Linked DNA regions of Homo sapiens. The protein of the gene in region 1 interacts with the protein of each later gene in a pairwise test. Each region holds a gene or a part of one and is shown on either strand. Other genes may lie near its edges.

Region 1 (3,817 bases):
ACCCTGAGTATTTTATTTCCAATTTGTATGCTGTGATAGAATATTGAAACTTACCCAACTATCAATACATTCAAGAGAATCAGTACGAAATAGCACATTTTCACTATAAGTAATATTTAAATATATAGTGGGTTTAAGTATATTAATTATACCCAAAAGCATAAAATTGGTATTTCCTAAGAATTGATCAAGGATATCTAAATACAAGTCATGATTAGTATATTTTAAACCAGTGTGGTTCTTTATGACGTTCTGTTGTTTTTCAACCTAATTGTCAGTGAGATAAATATAGCATCATAGAAAAAGATGCATTAACCAATATATTCAGTGACAAGTATAAACACTCAAACTTCCCCAGAATTCAAACAAAACTGTTGCATATTCTCCAAATTAAAGTAACAAAATTTTCCTTCCCTCTACTTTTTTTTTTTTAACTAGCATTTTTGTTTTCTCAATTGTTGAAGGTACGATTTGCTTTTCTGATTTTCTAATAGACTTCTGGAAGAATAGTATTCTAGAGGGTTTTGAGGATTTTATTTGGGCAAAAACAATTGTTTATTGTATACATGGAAAAAGCAGTTTTAAAAGAAGACATACTTTTTGTGAAGATTAATGCAAACTTTGGTTTGTTTAATGAAACAACAGTTTTGAGGTATTCCCATACCCAGAACGCTTAAATTTTCTAGATGCAAACCACCGAAACAACAATAGAGAATTCAATGAAGTGTCAAAAAGAAAGTTAATTTAATTGGCCTTCATGAAAAACACAAACTTGAATTCAGACAATGAATGAATGGAATGCAGTATCAGCCACGTGTCCATGTTTGGAGTGTCAGTTGATGAGCACCAAGAAGAATGGGCAGCTTTACAGTTCAGCAAGCACAGATGGACTCTAGATAGATGGATCAGCTTACCAGTTTTCTGACCCTCATATTATCAGCACTCAAAAGCTTCAGTGATAGGGTCATTGTCAGTTCCTAATATTCTGAACTAGTTAGAAAACTGAGGGCACAGAAACTCATGGGTTCATGTGGGTCTTGTTACTGCTGTGGCCCCTAGGAGCTGCAGGGAGACCTGGCTACAGGGCCACTTGCCTGCATGGAGCTTATTCTGCACTTATCCCTCACCCTTCTATCATCTTCCTTGGCTGATTCTGACAGCCATCAAATGCCCTCCCAGATGTGCTCACTGCCACCCCCATTTCCTTTGTTGACAGCACTACTGGATATTATGCTAAATGTTGGTTTTGTTTGTTGTTTAGTCTGTTGATAGATGTTCCAGCAGCTATTACATTTGACTTAACCTATATATTTCTTTTTTGTTGTTGCCCTTAAAAAGCACACTGTGTTTAGTTTGCGAGGGCTGCCATAACAAAGTGCCACAGACTGGGCAGCTTACACAACAGAAATTTATTTTCTAACAATCTGGACGCTGGAAGTCTGAGATCAAGATGTTGGCAGGGTTGGTTTCTTCTGAGGCCTCCCTTCTGGGCTTGTAGATGGCTGTCTTCTCCCTGTGTCTTCATATGGTCTTTCCTCTGTGTATCTGTGTCCTAATCTCTTCTTAGAAGGACATGGGTCACTTGAGATTAGGGCCCACCCTGATGATGTCCTTATTTTAACTTAATTGCCTCTGCAAAGATCCTGTTTCCAAATACAATCACATTCTGAGGTATTGGTGGTTAGGACTTCCCCATATGAATTTTGAGGTGATACAAGTCAGCCCATAACACATTTTTAAAAGTAAATTTTTGTGGATTGATCACCCCTGCTGTACCTGCCCCACCCCCAGACGTGAGCATCTAGAAGGCAGAAACTCTGTTTCTCTTGCAATTCCCACAACCTAACAGTGTCCAGCACTTTGCAGCTATTTCATGAACTCTTGCTGCATGAATGCAAAAAAGGTTGGTAAGAAACTTGAAGTTGAAAAGTGGCACTATTTCTGACTGCCAGAAGTAGCACCTGGCGAGTAGACTAGAACATGTTCCGATGAGAAGAAGAGGCAAAGAAAATACAGTACATTTAAACCGAGACAGCTTTTGACAGAAAGGCAAATGATTGTTGCTTGGGATCACCCATTCTCCACATCCAGCACTGGGAATGGAATGGAAGTTCAGGCCCTTGCGGAATACCAAAGGTCAGGTCTGAATCATTTGAGAGCAAAGGTAATTAATGATTGTCAATAGATCTTTTCTCTTAAGCTCTTCACTTTAGAGTCTCAAAATACTGCAGGTATAAGAAAGAACAATGCTGTAATGCAGATAGATCATATTTGTTTCCAGTAATTTACCACGGTTTCTTAAAACTAGCTGTGCTTAAAAAAATGAAAAGTTTAAATATCTCCTTTAGGTACTATGTCTAGGGATATGCTGAGTTCTTAGATACCAGCCAAGCAGGTTTTAAGAATGTAACTGAGACTCCTCTGTCCCTGCCATTTTTGGCTTAAGGTTCTGACTTTGAAGGAGATTGGAAAACTACCAGAAGGCCAAAGCAACGTTCATTTTTCTAAAAGTATACAATGATTACTTGATGATTCAAATACTAAAAAATGCCTAATGTGCTAAAAATGCCTAATAGTGAAAAAAAAAGCCTTGGTCAGTGTAACAAATATGAAGTAAGGGAGAAAGTTTCCTTAGTCATGTGTGTTTTGCTGTCAGATATTCATGTTCCCAAGTTCTTTGGCAAAAGTCATTGGCTTTTTTTTTGTTTTTGTTTTTGTTTTTTTTTTTTTTAGCAAATGGAGAGTTCTTAGAACAACAGATTGTTAGAATAGGTGTAATAATTTCTGAAAGGCAAGCTATTTTCCCCTACAAATTAGACTTTGGTGGTTTTAGTAATGATGCTTAGAAGTTAAATGTTAAAGCAGTGTCATTTCGTTAAAATGGAATATCCCAGAAAAGCACAAGAACGCAAGAATGACAATACTTACCTGACCTTGCTTTTCTTTGCTTCCTGTGCCTACAAAGTTTTTACATGTACTTTTATCAACGTTTTTGGTTTCCAACAGAACTTAATTTCTCACTAATATTTTAAGACTGTACTTGAAATATGATTTTTAAAGTGGTAATATAGAAATGTAATCACTTTATATCCATTTATATGAAGTGAATTTAACAGTAGATTCAAACTTGGGGTCCCCTAAAGTTGAGCCCAAACTGGGCTTTTGTGTGCTGTGACTTTGTTATAAGTCTGAAAAAAGCTTGTGTATTTGAGATTATTTTGTTTTCTTCACCCATTCCTGGATAAAGGAAATGTCAGAAGTGGCTGCTTGTCCCAAACAAGGCAGATGGTGGATTACTTTCTGAAGGAGCTGGGCACAGGAGAGGAATATGTGGAAAAGTAAGGTGGTTGGGGTGAGGGGAACCACATGGCTCAGAAAACAGACCCAGTCCAAAAAGAAAATAGTTCTAGCTCTTGCAGAATGAGCTCTCTTTAAGACCCAAACGTGGGTGGCGGCTGTGGACTGGTATAATTTTGAGGGAGTGGTGGTAGGCGATTTGCATTCTGGGATAATGCGAGGGCAGCAGGATAGTGGAAGGAACTGAAGTTTAGAATCTGGAAACCTAGTGTGAGTTTCAGTCCTACCCTACACTACCTGTGTGACTTGGGGCAAGTCGACCTTTTTGAGTTTCAATTTCTTCATTTGTTTAATGATAAGACCAATATTATTGGCTTATCATCAGGACAAATTAAGTAATGTATGCAAAATTGCTTTGTAAGCTAGGATGTGCTACAAATGTCACTGGTGTAGAGCAAAGATAGTTAGTTACTGTTCAATTATTCCGAAGAGTGAACACACTTAGCCATCTACATTTCCT
Region 2 (3,817 bases), on another chromosome or scaffold:
GTAAGGAAGGCAACTTATATGTCCAGGATCTTTTTCATTCCCTGAGCAGATAGACATCACTTTACATTTCACATTGCAGTCTTATCTCCCTCCTCCATTGTCATTTTCAGAGTATTTCCTCAAGCAGGGTGGTAGCCTATTCTCCCCATTTACAAGTTAGAAAACTGAAGCCCAACAAGTTGAAATGACTCATCCAAGTCATGCAGCCAGAAAGTAGAGGGCTAGGTGTCAATCCTGGGTCTCTGGACTCCTGCTCTTTCTCTACGTCCAGGGCTTGAGAGGCAGGAAAGTCCGGAGACTAAGAGCATTCCTTTCGGGCACTCTCAGCCATTGTGGTCTAGAAGCAGGCAAGGGGGTGTAGGTTTTGATTGTCTGGAGCTGCTAATGGGCCAGGCTCGGAGTGTCAGGAGGCTGAGGGTGGAAGGAGTGAGGAGGCTGACAGCAGCAGGCTTGGCTTCCAGAAGCAACATCTCAACACAGCAGTAAAAGAGGGAGTCAGGGACCATCGGCTGCAAACGCACTTGTCTAGTGGCAGCTGCCAGGATAGAGCTTGAAAGCAGCGAGGGAGGACCAGACCCCTCTTCTGCCCACCCTCTGTGCCCCTCAGGATCAGATGCACACAGGAGCCCAGGAGCCGGGGTGCCCTGGGTGGAAGAAGGCACCCATCTCTGCCCCACCTCCACCCTTGGGCTCTGAGACTCCCTCTGAAGCCCTATGTGCTATCACGTCTTGTTACTGGTACTTCCTATAGCATGACCTTGGACAAGCCACTGCCCCCCTGGAGGGCCAGTTCTATGACCTGCACAATGGGTTTCGTGATAACCTGCCTCGTAAGTACCAGAATGGTGTGACTGTCCTAAAATGCCTAAAATGGAGTCTAGCGCATGTTTGACACCTGAGAAAAGTTGGTTCCTTCTTCCCTTAGAACCAGCAGGCCCAGGCCCGGGCCTGAAGGAGTAAGGCAAGCCCTTTAGAAAGCAGGGCAGTGAGGAATCTAACCTAGAAGGGAAAGGTGTCTGCCCCTGCCCTCCAGGGCTCTAGCCTTCTCCAGGACCGGGATGCCCTTCAGCGCCCTCTCCTGGCTGCAGCCAACAATGCCGCCCCAGCAGCACCTGAAGAACGTAAAGAGCCCCCAAGATTACCCAGGGGCAGACTGCCCTAGGCCTGGTTTCCCATCTGCAAAACGATGTCTACAGCACTTGAGGGTTCATTTTAAAACCCAGAAACTTACTTGGGCTCCCTGAGCCTTCATTTCCTTATGGCGACAATCTCAAAGGCTGGAAGGCTAAATGAGATTATGCATATGGCACTTCATGTAGGTCCTGGCTCTTAGGACTCGCTAAACAAATGTTAGCCATCAAACCTGCCACTGCCTGATGTTCCTAACGGCCCCGCGTGTTAGGCAAGGGGTATCATTGTTCCCATGGTGCACTTGGGAATGCGAAGGGGAGCCACTCATCCAAGGGCGCAAAGAACAGATTAGAACTCAGCTCGCAGGTATCCCAGGCCAGTGGCCCTTCCACACGACTGGCTGGCAGATGCAGCTGTAGAACCAGCCCTTCCCTTCCCAGCGATTCCCTCTCCTTGGTGCAAGCCCTGCTCTTCCCACGGATGCTTCCCTAGACCCATGTGGCATTTCAGATGTCTTGCTTATGGTTTAATTAATAGTCCTTTGATTTCATTCTCAGAGAATGAAATTGGCAGTGCCTGGGAGGCCACCCACATCTGCCAACTGCTCTGATTTCCGTTCTAAGAGCTTTGCGTCAGAAAGAGAGGTCCGGGGACCAGCAAGGAAAGGTGGGGGTAATCCCAGGGCAGCCCCAGGGCCTCAGGACAAACCTTTTCCACCCTTAGAAGATGTTTACACAGAGTAGCACAAAGCATAGAGTACCAAACAAAACCCTCACCCCTTCCTCCGGCCCTGGAAACTCAATGGGATCTGTCTCCCAACCCCCTTCCCTCCCTGACCTGCCTCTGTCCCATGCCCTGGCTGTTCCCTGTGCCTGGAATATGCCTCGTGAGCTTCACAGCTCAGCTTAAATGTCACCTCCTTGGAAGAGGCACCCTGACCACTATCTGAGGATTTCACCCACCAATTCTGAGCCCCCTCCCTTGGTCTAGTGATCTGCATGGAGCACTGTCACTCTCATCCTGTTTTGCGTATGTGTTTGTTTGCTTATGAACTCTCACCCCTACTGAAGTGGGAGCTCCATGTCAGCAGGCACTGGGTCTTGTTCACCACCATATCCTCAGCTCTGCTCCAAATGGCTGGCTCCATAATTACTGTTGAGTGAGTGAGTGAGTGAATGAATGAATCTGGGGGAAAGAGTGCTGGCGAGAAGGTCAGGAAACATGGTTAACTGGCTCTGTGAGTGACCTTGGATAAGCCTCTACATTATCCGTGGAGCTCTGTTTGTCAGCTGAAATGAAGGGAACAGACCCAATGATCCCGAGTGGCTCCTCCATCCCTGATATTCTCAGGTGTCGTTCAGAGGATAGCCATGCCTTTGGGCATCTTGGCTTTCAAGCTCAGAGATACAAAGGGACTGAATAAGAGGTGATACAAGAAAGTGAGGAAGAGAGGCAGGGAGGCTGTGCACAAGGAAGGAGGTGGTCTTTCTTCCCACACCATGTCCACCCCTACCCAGAGGTTCTAGAAAAATCCCACTGGGAAGATTAACCTGTTAGAAAGAGCACTGACTCAGGAGTAGGAGACCCGCACCTTGATCTTGGCTCTCCTCAAGGTGTGACCTTTGGCAAATCACTTCATGACCCTCTGAGGCCCAGTTAACTCAACTGGACAATGGGGCTGATGACACCAGAAACGCACCTCCCAAGGGGGTAGCGTGGGTGGGAGTTGGGGGTACCTCAAGTCTGGCTGCTGGTGCAGGCTGCTCCCCCTCAGCAGCCTAGTAGCACGTGCCCCAGGTACGTTTCCCTCCCTGACCCCACTGTCCACTGGGCCTCTCTGATCTTGTCCCTCATGGCACTGGCTTGTACTTGTCTGTTGTTTGTCTTTCTTCCCCACTGATGTGTGAACCCCCCAAGAGCAGGAATCATGTCCTATATACACCCTTGACTCCCCAGGTCCTAGAGAGCATCTGATTCATTGCATGGGCTTAGGGAATATGTCTGAATGAATGCAGCTGTGAATGAGTGAATGAATGAATGAGCACACTGAGCTTCTCACAGAAGCAGCTGATCCCAAGGATGTTGATTGCTAGACTAGAACTTTCTCTTCCATGTACCCTGTCCCTCCTTTCCTTACTCTCTCTGACCTGGCCTTTCTCTCCCTACAGTTGCCCCCAAAGGACCCAAAATTGTGATGACGCCCAGCAGAGCCCGGGTAGGGGACACAGTGAGGATTCTGGTCCATGGGTTTCAGGTCAGCCTCTCTCTGAGCATCTGGGAGGGTGGTGGGAGGTGGTAGAGGCACCGACCCAGCACCAGCATTCCTGGCAGTCCTCTCTAACACTCTTCCTTTGATCCCCAGCCACATCCAGTGGGTTTCAGTTTCCCAATGTGTAATTGGGAGAATCAGCTCCCATGAGGAATGGCAAAGAGGTGCATGCATGTTTCACACCTTCTAGAACTCAGAGTAAACCTAGCTCTTCAACGAGACATTCTCTTAAGTCCCAGACTCCTCCTCCTCCTGGAGTTCAGGGCAGCCACTCCTAACCCGTCGGATGAGAATGCTGTGCCACCCCTGGCCAGGCAGCCCCTGACCCCTTGCTGATCTGGCAGAATGGGCCCTCCTGTGACCCACCTCTCCCCTGATCTGGCCAACAGAACGAAGTCTTCCCGGAGCCCATGTTCA

The links.
Region 2: the proteins of NREP (region 1) and IGSF21 interact in a two-hybrid assay, tested with the Homo sapiens proteins (one large-scale study listed by BioGRID and IntAct).

What each region holds. Positions count from the first base shown.
Region 1 is NC_000005.10:111,736,630-111,740,446, reverse strand, and holds part of NREP (neuronal regeneration-related protein), read left to right. Parts: intron 1-720; exon of another isoform or gene 721-2,143; intron 2,144-3,817. UniProt on the Homo sapiens protein: May have roles in neural function. Ectopic expression augments motility of gliomas. Also promotes axonal regeneration. May also have functions in cellular differentiation.
Region 2 is NC_000001.11:18,373,011-18,376,827, forward strand, and holds part of IGSF21 (immunoglobulin superfamily member 21 precursor), read left to right. Parts: intron 1-3,299; coding exon 3,300-3,385; intron 3,386-3,789; coding exon 3,790-3,817. UniProt on the Homo sapiens protein: Involved in synaptic inhibition in the brain. Selectively regulates inhibitory presynaptic differentiation through interacting with presynaptic NRXN2.